Regions from separate parts of the Homo sapiens genome. Here region 1 is linked to region 2. The links come from fine-mapping of genetic effects on gene expression. Tissue or cell type: adrenal gland. Region 2 holds a variant in brackets; the other region holds the start of a gene. All regions are shown on one strand. Distances are between the middles of the regions.

Region 1 (8,098 bases), 190 kb after region 2:
TCTAATTCTGATAATATCTTACTTAAGACTTTTGTATCTACTTTCATAAGGAAGATTGACCTATATTTTCTTGTATTGTCCTTGATGATTTTCATATAAAAGTTATACTGCTCTTTCAAAATGAGCTGGGATGTATTTCTTCTTTTTCTAGTCTCTGAATGTATCTGGGTAAGTTTGAAATTATTTGTTCTTTAATGTTTGATTTTTAAACAATTAGTATAAAAAACTGTCCGAGCTTATGTCTCTCCTATCTTTGAAAGAGATTTTTGCCTACTGGCCAGTTTATTGAAAGACTAGGAACTATTCTAATTGTTTATTTTTCTTAAGTTAATTTCTGGTAGTTTCCTAGAAAATTGTTTATATCTTCTAAGCTTTCAAAATTATGAACATATAAGTTTTACCCTCACCCTCACTCATTTATAATACTGTATATTTTTCTCTTTTAGCACCTTTCTTTTCTTCTTCTCTGATGAGACTTGCCAGAAGTATATATATTTGACTCATCTTTTCAACAATCAACTTTTCTTCATTTTTATCTTTCCAGCTTCGAATGCAGCTAGACAGAAAACTAATGCAATAGTTCTCATTTTCATCAGTGTCTGTCTTTACTTTTGTCACCCCTTTTTATGTATTTTTTGGTGCCTGTGATTTCCCTTTTGATTCTTTTTATCCTACTCTTTGAGTTGAAACTCCAGTTTATTTTTTCCAGGCTGTTTTCCCTCAAATTATTACCTCAGGAGTAAAGCAGAAGTTTGACAGGGAATTCTTGTCATTTAATTCCAAATGTTTTATAATTTTCCTTTTAAATAGGATGTCCACATAACGTATCAACCAAACTGGGACATGTTTGACAGTGAGTGGAAGAGTGCTATTAATAATCACACGAAGACAACAGACATAATTGGGTCTTGCCCATTCTCAGATGTATGTAAACTCATGAATTATTTAGAGTGTGTTTTGATTTTCGAACGTGTATGTATGTGTAGAAAATGAATAAATTCATAGATTTCTACTGGAATTACGAGGTCAGAAAATCTGGTCTATGTGATAGGATCTGAGTTTGCTGAAACTTTCTTTGTGGTCTAGGGAATGGTCAAGTTTTTGTAAGTATTTGAAATGTGCTTGGAAACAATCTATTCTTCAGGGGTCACTGTTTTTCAGAGATCACAATTCTTAATATATTACTTAAGTCTTCCATATTCTTCATATGCTTTTTGGCCTACTTGATTTATTGTTTTCTGATAGAGGTACTCCAAATCCTCTGTAATAATTATGGATTTTGAATTTTTCCTCATATTTTGTCAATTTTTGTGCTAGATAATATGGGACTATGTTGTCAGTTGCTTATAGGTGAATAGTATTCTATCTTTAATGAGTCTTCTCTTTACCATTAAAAGCATCTTTTTAATGTTTCTTTACTAACTTTTATATGCATTAACAACTTTCTTTTGGTTGCCTGCCATATATTATTCTATCCTCCCTCTTTATTTTCAACCTGTCTATAAGTTTGTTTTAGGTGTACCTTTGAAAAGCAACATAGCTAGATTAAAACAACAAAACAAAACACTTCCAATTGGATTCTAATCTGAGAGTCTACCCTAACAGTTAAATCTGTTAACATTTAACTGTTAGGATAGACTAACAGTTAAATGTTAAATTAAATAATTAATTAATTAATTAAATTAATTAAATGTTAAATCTGTTAACATTTACTGTGTTCACTAACGTATGTTTTTAGTGGGGAAGGCACACATTTAATGACAGGGAACACAGTTCATGATACACTTTTTAATTTTATTTTTAATTAACAAATAATAATTGTCTATTTTTATGGGGTACAGATGTTAGAGGCATTTGAAGCAGAGCAACTCCATCTTGAATAGGAGCTGGGTAAAATAAGGCTGAAACAAACCTACTGGGCTGCATTCCCAGATGGTTAGGCATTCTAAGTCACAAGATGAGATAGGAGGTCGGCACCAAATACAGGTCATAAACACCTCACTGATAAAACAGTTTGCTGTAAAGAAGCCAGCTAAACCCCACCAAAACCAAGATGGCAACGAGAGTTCTCACTGCTATACTCCCACCACTGCCCTGACAGTTTCCAAATGCCATGACCTGTTAGGAAGTTACCCTAAATGGTCTAAAACGGGGAGGCATAAATAAGCCACCACTTGCTTAGCATACAATCAAGAAATAACCATAACAGCAAGTAACCAGTAGCCCTCGGGCCGCTCTGCCTATGGAGTAGCCATTCTTTATTCCTTTATTTTACTAATACACTTGCTTTTACTTTACTATATGGACTCACCCTGAATTCCTTCTTTCACAAGATCCAAGAACTCTCTCGGGGTCTGGACTGGGACCTCTTTCTGGAAACACAGATATCTCTTTGACATAGTGATTTCAATTCCTTTGAGTATTGTGAAAGGAAAATAAATTTTGGGGCCCCCAAATCACTAAGCTAAAGGGAAAAGTCATGCTGGAAAATGCTCAGGGACAACCTGCCTCCCATTCTATTCAAAGTGATCCCTTTGCTCACTGAGATAGGTGCATATCTGATTGCCTCCTTTGGAAAGGCAAATCAGAAACTCAAAATAATGTAACTATTTGTCTTTCACCTACCAGTGACCTGGAAGCCCCCTCCCTGCTTTGAGTTTTCCCGCCTTTCTGGACAGAACCAGTGTATACCTTACACTTACATATTGATTTATGTCTCATGTTTCCCTAAAATGTATAAAACCAAGCTGTGCCCTGACCACCTTGGGCTCATGTCATCAGGACCTCCTGAGGCCGTGTCATGAGTGTGTGTCTTCAACCTTGGCAAAATAAACTTTCTAAATTAACTGAGAACTGTCTCAGATATTCAGGGTTCACAGTATATACTCAGAAGTAGGACTGCTGGATCATATGGTAATTCTGTTTTTAGAGTTTTGGGAAACTTCCATTCTATTTTCCATAAAGGCTGCACTAATTTACATTCCCATCAACAGTGTACAAGGGTTCCCTTTCCTCCACATTTTCACCCACACCCATTGTCTTTGGTCTTTTTGATTATAGCCCTTCTAACAGTGTAAGGTGACATCTCATTATGCTTTTAATTTGTATTTCCCTGATGATATGTGATGCTGAGCATTTTTGCTGGTCATTTTTATGTCTTCTTTTGAGAAGTATCTGTTCAGGTCCTTTGCCCATTTATAAATTTCTTCTTTTGCTTTTTTGCTGTTGAGTCGTGTGCCTTTAATTTTTGCACTTTACGTTGTGAGTTTTATTTTCCATGCTTGTTCTTTGCTTCTTTATTCTCTTCTTTTCTTGCCTTCTATTGAGTTGATTGTGTTTTCTTTATTCCCTTCCCCCTGTCTACTAGTTTGGGAATTATATATACTAGCAAAGAGATACCCTTAAATTTTTAAAATAAATACTTACCAAAGCCTAAGTTCCATCAATTATCTATCTTTCTTACTTATGAAATTGAGAAAGGCCGTTCACTCCATGTCGCTACCTCTACCTAATAACTTAAAATTTTTTATTTGTCTAATATTTTATTTCCACCTTTTTTTTTTTTTTTTGAGTCTTGCTCTGTTGCCCAGGCTGGAGTGCAGTGGCATGATCTCGGCTTACTGCAACCTCTGCCTCCTGGGTTCAAGCAATTCTCCTGTCTCAGCCTCCCAAGTAGCTGGGACTACAGGCGCACACCACCATGTCTGACTAATTTTTGTATTTTTAGTAGAGACAGGGTTTCTCCATATTGGTCAGGTCGGTCTCGAACTCCTCACCTCAGGTAATCCACCTGCCTTGGCCTTCCAAAGTTCTGGGATTACAGGCCTGAGCCACCACGCCCAGCCTCCATCTTGTTTTATAATTCCCTAAAGTTAATTGTTGTTAAATCAGGAGAGAAGTATTTTATGTAACATTTCTGTTTATCAGCCCAGCCCACCAACTGGAGTGCCCTGATTCCATAAGTTTGGCAAGTCACTTACCTTCTCTGGCTTTCCATTTCTGGTCACAGCTGGGAGAGGCTCTGAAGATCATCTAGCAAAGGAGCTCCCTCACTTTGCCTGTTTCTAGGCACTGAAAAGTACAGGCCACAAATATATTCAGTAAAATAAATCACTTGAGAAATTCAAACAGGCTAGAGGAGATATCCGCTATCATAGGAGATCGGGCAGAAAAGTTTCTTAAACATAAGAGTGAAATGACCTAAACTGAATTTCAATGAGATAAACAGCAGTTTACTAAGACAGGGCAACCCCACAGGGTGCTGTTTGGTCAGAATTGGCCCGAGGAGGTGAGACCCTGACCTACGAAGGCAGCAGGTGTCCGGGAAGCATGGTTAGCAGCAAGAGCTAGGGGAGGTGGCCGCCGATTACATAGAAGAAAGGAGGCAGGCAGGCGCTGATCCCAGGGGTTCTGGTAGAGGGGCAGGGAAACTACCGTTATTGGTCCTTCATGCAAACTTTAGGATTTTCATCCATGTGTGTATTGCTTGAAGATGCTGCATTGCAGAAAGTCTTCAACTTCTCCCATGACCGAGGCAGGTCTGATGAGAGTGCAAACAGTTAGTACTCGCCCAGCTGCGCGCCGAGGCCTCCTCCAGAATCCAGACCGCATCCCCGAAAGCCCGCCCTGCCCCGCACTTAGGCCCCGCCCCAACACGCCCGTCCCGATAACGAGGCTCCGCCCCCAAGAGCTCGCCCGCGCTCCCCCAGAGGAAACGGAAGTCGTATCTGTCCGGACGGAAGCAGGAAGCGGGAGCGTAGGGCCACGCCTGCGGCGCTGCTGGTTGAGGCTGTGTGGGTCGGGGACGGGCCGAGGCGATGGCGGAGAAGTTTGACCACCTAGAGGAGCACCTGGAGAAGTTCGTGGAGAACATTCGGCAGCTCGGCATCATCGTCAGTGACTTCCAGCCCAGCAGCCAGGCCGGGCTCAACCAAAAGCTGTGAGTGGCGGCCCGAGGCTGCCGGGGTCTCCCCAGGGCCTGGCCGGGAAGCGTGTGCTAGGGGAGCGGGGATCTAGGGAGCCCGAGCCGAGCCTGACCGCTACTCGTGCCCCGCCAGCCCTCTGGTCTGGTCCCGGAGCCCGGGGCGCCTTTCCTGGCTGTGTTCAGAGGGCGGGGCCCGCGCTCCAGCCTGTTGCCAAGAGCCAACCTCTTTGAGGCCCCTTTGGAGACGTCGTCATGGCCAGATGATATACTTTACGTTTCCCTATCAAGGGAATCATGCTTTCTCTTCTAGCGTCTCCCCTCTCATGTGTAACCCCCTCCCAGCCTTTTCCTCCTGGAGCCCTTCTGGGAATTCAGTCCCTGTCTCCAGAGGGGAGGCAGGCTCCACAGTGAGTGCACGCCCTAAACTAGGCCTCAGAAGGTGAGGCTCCGAAGCCACCTGCCGCATAGGCCTGACAGTGGAGGAAATAGCGGGGAGGTGGTGCTGAGAAAGGTTGCAGAACGTTTATTATTATTATTTCTTGGCAACAGCCTTGTGCTGCCCATGTTGCTAGGCCCTGGGTTGGAGAAAAGGCAAATGCAAGTACAGCACTTTCGAGAAGGGCTTTATATGTGGCACGGACATAGAAAATGTTGCACTCGAGGTTCCATACCTAGTGCTGTGGGAATAGCCAGACCAGCCTGATGCTGTAGGAAGGCTCCAGAGAGGAGAGGAAGCTAAACCAGACAGTATGGCTTTCTTTCCCTCAGACTTTGAGTATAGTCCGCTGCCTCATGTGTTCGCTGAAACCGCACACACAGTCATATGCACAGTCAGGTAATTGTTTTTGAGAGAAGGTTCATATTTTTCATCAGGTTCCCTCTCCATCCCCCTTACTGGCAATTTCTAGTTGAGAAGGAAAGTAACAAATATTTAAGGGTATTTTGTAACTCTAACGGTGTCCTAGGAATCCTGTAGCTAACCAAAGAGGTCAGAACCGTGTGTAACCCGCATAGCTGTGAGGAGAACGAACTTGCGTGGAGCCCCGGTTGGCTGGGTAGCTCTGTGGGTGGTGCTTATGCTGTCAAGCGAAATTAACCAGATGCCTGTGTGTTTGCCTTTCCCCCAGGAATTTTATTGTTACTGGCTTACAGGATATTGACAAGTGCAGACAGCAGCTTCATGATATTACTGTACCGTTAGAAGTTTTTGAGTAAGTAACATTCTTGATATTAGTCTTGGGTATAAATCTTGTTCAGTTATGGTGTGGTATCGTGACTTCTTCATCACTGGCATTCGAGTGCCTGCTGTGTGGTAGGCACAGCCTGGGTGCTGGGGATGTGCCAGTGGAAAAAAAAATAGACAAAAATACAAAAATACCTGCCCTTATGGAACTTCCGTTCTAATGGCATTACAAAACGAAAAAAAAGAATATCCTTAATATTCTATTGTGGAAAAAAAGTTACATGTAAATAAAAGCTTATTAAATATATGAAATACATCATAGGTCCTCAAAGCCCTGCTTAGGCTAAAGAACAGCCACAAAACTTTCTTTTTTCCTTAAGAGGTGAAAAGTCCTATGAGGGCTATATTGTAAATTTTTAAAAAATGGCAGCCAGAAGCACCTGAAAAGCAAGCTGGTCTGATGTTCCCAAACTGCCCGTGGAGTGCTAGTTCTGAGAGGTGAAAATATCTGCTCTGTCGAAGGAGGAAAGAAAGGGTTCTTATTCCAAGTATGTTTGGGGAGGCTGCTCACTGTTTTCTGTGCGAGAGTTGTGTGCACCTATGTTAGTAATAGTCCTGAGAACACATACAGGAATGAGCTTTTAGATTTTTAAAATCCAGGTTTTCTTGCATTGATTTGGTCACATCTCTGATTTCACACATGAAGGACCTGATAAGTAACTGCAATAGGTTGTTTACCTAGTAAGTGTCAGAGTTAAGACGAAACCCCCGGACTCATACTTTCTTGACCAGTGCAAAGCAGCCTCTCCCTGATGGTGCTGGCTTGGAACAGCAAGAACATTCTAGTATTTCTTGCAGCAAAACTGCAAATGTAAATCACTAGATTTCGTTAAGCAGTAAAGGGAAAGAGTTATGGCTGTTTTCCATCCCAAAAGGTCAGAGATACAAGTTCTAGCTATAGTGCAGCAGCTGCCTACAAAGACAGGACACAGAGGTGGTTTTCTTGGTCTCTGATCTTCTGTTCACCTGCTGATGACTTTGCCCCATGTTCCTTACCTGTGCTCAGTGGGCACCACTGAGGTCTCTGACTTCAGGTGGGACGAAGGTCTTGCACCTCAGGTAGCTCCAGACTCAGCTTTGGCTTTCTCAGTCCAGGAATACAGAGCATCCTCCTTTGTGCTCTTCTGATTATGAATGCAGGGGATGCATATAGTGACAAGTGGCAAGTAACTACTTGTGTCTTCTGAAGCAGAACAAATGGAGACTGATGTGAACAGACTGCTTAAGGGCCGAGGGAAGTGCTGGGCACGGGGATGGATGAGATTGACCTGGGGTATCAGGAAGAGTATGCCAGTGAGCCCTAATACAGAGCAGATGCTGGGAGTTTATCTGCAAATCGGTGGTTGGTGTCTACCCAATGTAGAAGGAATTTCCAGGTCCCAGTGGCCTTTGCAGCGTGTACATTTTCATACACACCAACTGTGTCTTTAGCTAAGGTGAAAGCAGCTTGGCCCTTGTCTCCAGGACTTTGTGTGTGGGCAGGAGTGGGTTCACCCTTCGGTCTTCAAAGAACCAAGTCTGAGCAGGATGTCCATGCTGTTGAAGAAACGACCGTCAGCTGACATGGTTAACCTTATTCTGTGAGCCTGTCAGGTTTTTCTTGAGAAATGGATAGATTTTGTTTAGAATTAACCATAATTTTGCCACATTACATTATTTCAAAAACACTGAAATGAAATAGAATTTCTAGAACTTGTGATGTTTTTATCTTTTGCTATCTATCAAGGCTACTTTTTATACCATTAGTAGTAACCTAATGATATCTTGTTCTGAAGTGATTATATATTTTTGGCCTCAATTATAAAATTCGAAAGTAGAGTTAGTTTTCAGTTTTTGTTTTTTGTTTTTTAAATAATGAATGATTCAGTTTAGTTGAATGATAAGGATTTCTTTAGGGTACAGAAAAAGGTAGGTGGCCTGCTCTTGGTAAA
Region 2 (8,108 bases):
GCAGGAAGCATCTGGCATGAGAGAAAGATGTAGGCTGGGAGGCTAGGCCCGTGTAGTCTTTTCATATTTTACTGCCTGCTTTATGTTCTAGCCATACTGGCAGCTGATTAGATGGTGTCCACCCAGATTAAGGGTAGGTCGACCTTTCCCAGCCCACTGAGTCAAATGTTAATCTCCTTTGGCAACACCCTCACAGACACGCCCAGGATCAATACTTTGCATCCTTCAGTCCAATCAAGTTGACACTGTATTAACCATCAGAATATGTCATTCTTTTGTCTCTTGATTTATTAATTTAATTTAGTTAAGTTTCTTTTATGGAAAATATCAATCATACAAAAGTGGGGAGAATGGCACAATGACCCTTCCTCATGCAGCTGTCACCCAGCTCCAACAAGTGACAACCTTTGTCTAATCTAGTTATATCTATGCAGACTGGTCCCCTGATGCACACACACACACACACACGAGACACTATCATTTCATTCATAAATTTTCAGGATGTGTTTTCTCTTAACACAAATGTGATGTGATTTTTCTCACCTAAAGGCAGAGTTGAATTCTGCTGTGCTCCAGTTTAAAAACAAGCTCAGGATCTTAGCAGCTTGAAGGACACATTGTGTTGCTACTGTATTATCCCCTCCCTCTCCCGTCTTTCCCCTTCCCGTCTTTCCCCTTCTTCCCGTCTGATTTCCAGGGGACTATCAGCTCCAGGAGGCAGGGCCCCTGTTGAGCTTGTGCACAACTGTCTGTGTCTTAGCACCCTGCACTTGGGAGTACTCGATGCGCACTCATAGAATGCATCTGGATGTCCTGAAACAAGCCATTTCCTCCCCATTTGCATTTCTTTCCAAAATGCATTTCCACGCCCTGCAGGGCTCTACTTCTTGCTCTAATAAACTGAATCCCCTTCAACAAAGTCAACTGGTATTTTAATTTTCATCTTGTGAGAAGTGGTTTCCCAAATGATTATCCAATCTAGTGGTTCTCCACCCTGGCTGGCCATTAGAATCACCCGAGTGGCTTTGAGAAAACCCTGGGCCCACCTTAGAGAACCTAAGATGACAGGTCTAGGTGGGTGGGTCCCTGGGTGGTCTTGATGGGCAGCCATGGTGGAGAAACTATAACCCAGCCCATTCTCAAAGCACTGACAGTATCCAGAGGGCAGACAGGCTGGTTAGTGGAAATAACTGCTCTGAATGCCTGAAATCATTTGCTTGACCCAGTTTTCTTTCTTTCAAGCCCAGGCAACAGCTGGGGCCGGACTATTAAGCCAATGAGCTCAGCCTAATTGGAAACCACCAGGGACCTCATTGTCCAGTGAGATGGAGCAGCTCGTGCTGGCCCTTCCAAATGCGCGTGTCTTACAAGTGATGCTTCCCAGGTGTTACACAGAGGCAGGGCCCTTCGGAAAAGTCAAGACTCATCTTTATTCCTTCAACACCCCAGACTAAAACCTTTTTTCCCCCGAGGCTCCACAAACTAAGTGGAGAACCTCAGTGTGCACCTGTTATCACCTGGGTGCTTTCGGGTAAATGAGATGCAGTGAAACATCTTATGGGCATGGGAAGGTGTGATGGGCAGAGTTCTAAGATGGCCTTCAGGATTCCTGTTCCCTGGTGGGTATGCCCTGGGTAATCCCCTTCCCTGGGTGGCAGGCAGCCCCTCAGAATGTGATGGGACATCATGCCCATGAGAAGGCTGCCAATCAGTTGACTTTGAGTTATCAAAAGCAAGATTACCCTGGTAAGCCTGACCTGATCAGGTGAATCCTTAAAAGGGACAATCCCTTCCTGGAGCAAGAGATGGCACATCTGAGGGACCCTTGCCAGATGCCATATGGCAGGGGCCTGTGGGTAGCCTTTAGAAGCTGAGAGTGGTCCCTGGCTGGTAGCTAGAAAGACAACAGAGACCTCAGTCCTGCTAAATTCCCTATAACCCCAAAAAGATGGGGGGTGGATCTTTCCCCAGGGAAGCCTCCAGACAAGAACAGTTTACTGAAACCTTCATTTCAGCCTGGTGAGCCCCTGAGTCCCAGGCTCCACAGACAACATGAGATGATAAATTTGTGGGATTTTTTGTTTGTTTTAGTTTTATTATTGTAGTTATATATATATATACACACACACACACACACACACACACACACACACACACACACACACATATATATATTATAAAACATTTGTCAGTTTAATCTTTTTTTTTTTTTTTTTTTGAGACCGAGTCTCACTCTGTCCCATAGGCTGGAATGCAGTGGCGCAATCTCGACTCACTGCAACCTCCACCTCCCAGGTTCACGTGATTCTCCTGCCTCAGCCTCCTGAGTAGCTGAGATTACAGGCGTGTGCCACCATGCCTGGCTAATTTTTGTATTTTTAGTAGAGATGGGGTTTCGCCATGTTGGCCAGTCTGGTCTTGAACTCCTGACCTCAGGTCCTCCTGACCTCCTTACCTGCCTGTCTCAGCCTCCCAAAGTACTTGGATTACAGGCGTGAGCCGCCATGCCCAGAGCTGTTTAATCATTTTAAGTGTACAATTCTGTGGGGTTAAGTACATTCATGATGTTGTGCCACTATCATTACCGTTTCAAAATATTTTCCTCATCCTAAACGGAAACTCTAGGCTATTAAACAATAACTCCCCATTCCCCTCTCTGCCCAGCCCTGGTCACTGCTATTCTACTTCCTGTCTCCATGAATTTGCCTATTCTAGGTCTCTTGTATAAGTGGAGTCACCATATTTGCTTTTTGTTTGTGGGATTGGCTTATTTCATTTAGCATAATGTCCTCAAGGTTCATTCATGTTGTCGCATGTGTTGGAATTTGTTTTCTTTTTACGGCTAGGTAATATCCTATTGCATGCTGCCCTCTACCCAGAATGACTCTGCAAGTCCACAGGCACCATTCATGCCCAGGTGGGCCCTGATCCTGGGCTCCCTGTGCCCTCATAACATGGACATGCTGAAGCTTGGTTGCACATCTTCAACAAGAAAGGACGTAAACATTTTATAGTGAACATTTGGGGAAAGTTTTTGATGCAACAGGGACTTTGCTAGAAATATCATTCTCAAACATATATTGGATGTTGTTCTATTATATCTTTATTTGCACATGACAAACTAAGGCTTGGGAAGATGGAGCAACTTGCCCAAAGGGATGGGCACTGTATTCAAAAGATCATGTTGCCATGGCTACAGTCTGTACCACTCCATGGCAAGTTACACTCTCAAGCTAACTAGACTTCTAGGGAAACTGAGGAAGGAGCAGGCTGTTGAAGAGAGGAGCCCAGAGAAGGCGCTACACCTGAATTTCTGGGTTCTAATTCTAGGCTAACTGGACTTTGTTCAGTTCTTAATGTGAAAGTTCCATTCAAAACCTCTGCTCCTCTGCGCTAGAGCCAAAAGGAGCAAAATTTTTCTTATAATCAAAATGACTTAAATAAAATAAACCACTACGTAACTCTCTCTTGTTACATTTTGCATTTTTTTTGCATAAGAAATTCCAATGCATTGCAAAGAGGCTGGGAAAAAATGAAAGCAAAATGAAATAATTCGTATTTTCTTATTTTATTTTAAATTGACAAATAATAATTGTATATATTTATGGGATTCAGTGTGATGTTAAAATATATGTATAGATTGTGGAGTAAATAAAGCTAATTAACATATCCATCACCTCACATACTTACCTTTTTTTTGTGGTGAGAACATTTAGCGATTTTGAAATATAAAATATATTATTATTAATAGATCACTAAAACTTATTCCTCCTGCCTAAAACTTTGTACCCTTTGAACAATTCTTCTTTTTTAACACATGGCAATTAATACTGTTATTTGTTCTTTATTCATTTAACTTTTTTCTATATCAAGATATGTTACAAAATGTGA[C/T]GTTAGCACCTACAGTTTTGTCATCTGCATGAACGCTAGATTACTAACATCTTTTTGTAGTTGACTAGGTTTCATTGAATAAATGAGCCATAATTTATTCAATAGCATATTATCAACTGTCTGTGTTTATGTTGTGATCAGCATCATTGTTAACACAAAGATTGTTTTAATCGATTGTTCTCTAACTGAAACCAAGGTGGTCACTCTTTCTTCCCAGTGGGCCTGTACGTGGAGAAAAGAACCGTATTATACCAATTCAATTAAGCCTGTTGTGTTTCTGGAAATATGCCAGCAGTTGGCAAATGCTTGTTTGTTGATAAACTGATGGACTGGTTCACTGTAAGGTGACAGACAGCATGTGAGATTGCTACATGGAAAAACATTTCTAACCCTAGCTGCAGATTAGACTTACTCAAGGGGGCTCTTCATAATTACAATGGCTTGGCCCAATCCCCCTGAGATTCAAATTTAATTGAGCTGGTGGGTCCCTCATAAGCATTTTTATAAAAGATCCCCAAGTGATTTTAATTTGTGTCCAAGCTGAGGAACACTGACATACTCAGTCTCCAAAAAACACTTGCTTGTGTATATATTAATAACTATAAAATGCCCCTCTTGTCCCATTTTGAATTCTTTCCCATCTTGCTCACTGGGATGAACAGGTTTGTTTGAGGAGGCCAATAAGCTGATTTAGAAAAGTTAGTTTATTCGAGAGAATTTTCCTCCCTCATTTGATGAGCCAGGTCTGACCTTAAAACCAAAACTAAACAAGGACAGTTCAAGAAAACCAAATTGTAAGCCCATCTCACTTATGAAGATGGATGGAAGGATCCTAACAAAATAGCAAGCTGCACCCTACAGTGTAGAAAAATGAAAATTAATATGTAGAAATTGCCTAGGAACTCAAAGATGATTTAATATTGGAAAATGTAAAAATCATTACTGTTTTGAAAGAGGAAATCATCTCAGTAGATATAGAAAAATCGTTTGATAAAATTACCCATTCGAAATGAGAAATAAAAACCTTCTTTTAAAACTAGGAGTAACTAACAGTAAATGTTCCTGACCTGATAAAGAATTATCTAAAGATATACAAAAAGAATCATTATAATGATAAAATATTGGAAGCACCTAGTTTAAAAATAGCAAGACAAGGATGTCCTATACTACTATGCTTCTCTTTGACATTATATAGGAACAGGAATTAATAGCATATGATAGAAAAAGAGAGAAATTTGTCATTATTTGCAGGTGATATGATTATCTATAGAGATTACCCAAAATTCTATAAATTATTATAAATAAAATATGTTTAGGCTGGGCGCGGTGGCTCAAACCTGTAATCCCAGCACTTTGGGAGGCTGAGGCAGGCGGATAACAAGGTCAGGAAATCGAGACTATCCTGGCTAATACTGTGAAATCCCATCTCTACTAAAAATACAAAAAAAGCCGGGCATGGTGGCAGGCGCCTATAGTCCTAGCTACTCAGGAGGCCGAGGCAGGAGAATGGCGTGAACCCAGGAGGTGGAGCTTGCAGTGAGCCGAGATTGCTCCACTGCACTCCAACCTGGGCGATAGAGCAAGACTCCGTCTCAAAAAAAAAAAAAAAAATATGTTCAGGAAGGTGGCTGGATATAAAATCAATACACAGAAGTCAATAGTAAAAAAGTTATAGAAAAAATTATAGAATAAAATGCTGCAGATTGTCTTGAAATAAATCTAAGAAATCATTTGTAAGACCCACACAGAAAACCTGTATACACAAATATTTTAAAGAAGTACCAAATAAATGGATATATATCCTGTGCTTATGAGTAGGGAAACTTTATGTATGGTAAAGATAATTCTCTTCCAATAGATCTCTAGATTTAATGCAGTGCCAATAAAAATCACAACAGGGTTCTCATAAACCTGGATTTTAACATGTGTAGAGAAGATCAAAGGGATAAGAATAGCCTTCAATCTTCTAAAAATGAAATACGGAGAAGGAGGATTTGCCTATCAAGGTTAAGACCTATTTATTAAGCTGCAGTAGTTAAGACAGTGTGGTGCTGGTACAAGGATAAGAAACTGAGCAATGACTCAGAATAGAACACCAGAAACAGAACCACAGAGTAGGACTACTTGATATATGACATCAGTGGGATGAAAGATCATTGGCTGAAGGGGAGACTGTGTAGTCGATGGTGTGGGAAAAGCTAGTTTTCCATTGCTTATGTAGAAAAAAGTAAACTGGATCTCTACCTCACAGCATATACAATAAAAATTTGAAATATCAAAAGCAAAACAAAATTTTTAGAGGAAAATATAGGTGGTTATTTTCCTGACCCTGGGATAGGAAAATATTTCTTAAAAGAGGCACAAAAAGCCTAAACTCTGAAACATTGATGAATTTTGCAAGTTAAAGAAAACACATTTCCTGCAGAAAGTACCAACACAAACTATATGAAACAAACTTCTAAAAATTAATTAAAAAAAGACAATTTAATTTTAAAAAATTGGGTAAAATCATGAACAAGCATTTCAAAGAAGAAAAAATACAGGGAGCCAATAAGCTATGAAGAGATGATACATATCACTAGTAATCAGGGACATTCTAGTCACACACTAACATAGCATTGCATACCAAATTTTGATTGGCAAAACCAAGAAATCTGATACTACCAAGTATTGGAGAAGAATGGATCAAGAGTATATTTTATACTTTACTGGTGGGAACTTCAATTAGTACAACCATTTTGCAAATTAATCTTGTAAATTTGAATATTAGCATACCCTGCAATCTGGCAATTCCATTTGTAGGTATATGTACCTAAGACAAATGCTTGCAAATGCATGTAAGTTATGAAGAAGAATGCTTGTAGCAGCTCTGATTTTAATAGCAAAAACCTGGAAACATCCCAAAGGCCCATACAGATCTGAATCTATTCATATAATAAACTATTATACAGAATTGAAAAGGAATGAACTACAGCCAGATTCAACACATGGATGCATCATAGTAACATAATGTTGCATGAGAAAGCAGGTCTCAAAAGACTCATATAATATGATATTCTTTTATATAGTTTTAAAAACTGCGATAAGAACACTTAAAATGAGATCTATCCTCTTAACAGATTCTGAAATGTACAATACAATGTTGTTAACTATAGACACAATTCCACACTGTAGATCTCTAGAATTTAGGCATCGTGTATAACTCAAACTTCATAACCATCAAATAACAACTTCCCATTTCCCTCTTCCCCCAGCCCCTGGGGGTTGCCATATATCTTAGAACATTTTCTGTTGCTTATAACAGAATACCTGAAACTGGGTAATTCATAAAGAAAAAAATTTACTTCTCAGAGTTATGGAGGCTGAGAAGTCCAAGGTCGAGGGATCATATCTGGTAAGAGCTTCTTGCTGGTGGGGGCTCTGCAGAGTCCTGAGGCAGCACAGGGAATCCCATGGTGAGGGACTGAGTGTGCTATCTCAGATCTTTCTTCCTCTTGTTTTAAAGCTACCAGTTTCCCTCACATGGTAGTTCATTAACCCATTAATCCATTCATGAATGGGTTAATCCTTCATGAGGGCCAAGCCCTCATGATCCAATTACCTTTAAAGGCCCCACCTCTCAATATTAAGTTTCAGCATGAGTTTTGGAGGGGATATTCAAACCATAGCACCATTCTACTATAATCGTCTATGTGTTTGACTATTTTAGATACCCCAAATAAATAGAATCATGTAATTTTTGTCCTTCTGTGACTGGCTTATTTCACTTAGCTTAAAGACATCAAGTTTCTTTCATGTTGTCTCATATGACAAGATTTGTTTTTCAAAAGGCTGACTAATATTCCATTGTGTGTATGTGTATATATATAATTTCTTTTTGATAAACATTTAGGTTGCTTCTACATCATGGCTATTGTGAGTAATGCTGCAGTGAACGTGAAAATGTAAATATCTCTCTGAGATCTTGATTTCAATTCTTCTGGATACATACTCAATTGAGGGATTTCATATGGTATTTCTGTTTTTCTGTTTTTAACTTTTTGAGAAACCTCCATGCTGTTTCCCATAGTGGCTGTACCATTTTTCATTCCCATCAACAGTACAAAAAGGTTCAAATTTCTCCACATTCTCATCAACACTTGTAATCTTTCATTTAAAAAAAAAACAGCCATTCAAACAGGTGTGAGATGATATCTCACTCTGGTTTTGATTTGTAT

The links. PIP is the estimated chance that this variant, and not a neighbour inherited with it, causes the effect.
Region 1: it holds the start of MED10, and the variant in region 2 is fine-mapped to the expression of MED10 in adrenal gland (GTEx, PIP above 0.99).

What each region holds. Positions count from the first base shown.
Region 1 is chr5:6,375,203-6,383,300 of GRCh38, reverse strand. It overlaps MED10 (mediator complex subunit 10), which reads left to right and starts at 4,754. Exons shown (of 4, transcript NM_032286.3): 1 at 4,754-4,939; 2 at 6,052-6,135. The coding sequence starts at 4,818. RefSeq lists enhancers at 4,300-4,519, 4,810-5,019.
Region 2 is chr5:6,561,761-6,569,868 of GRCh38, reverse strand. No RefSeq gene overlaps it. Among named protein-coding and RNA genes, the nearest start is that of LINC01018, 16 kb to the left of the region's middle. The variant C/T (reference allele first, on the strand shown) is at 3,892.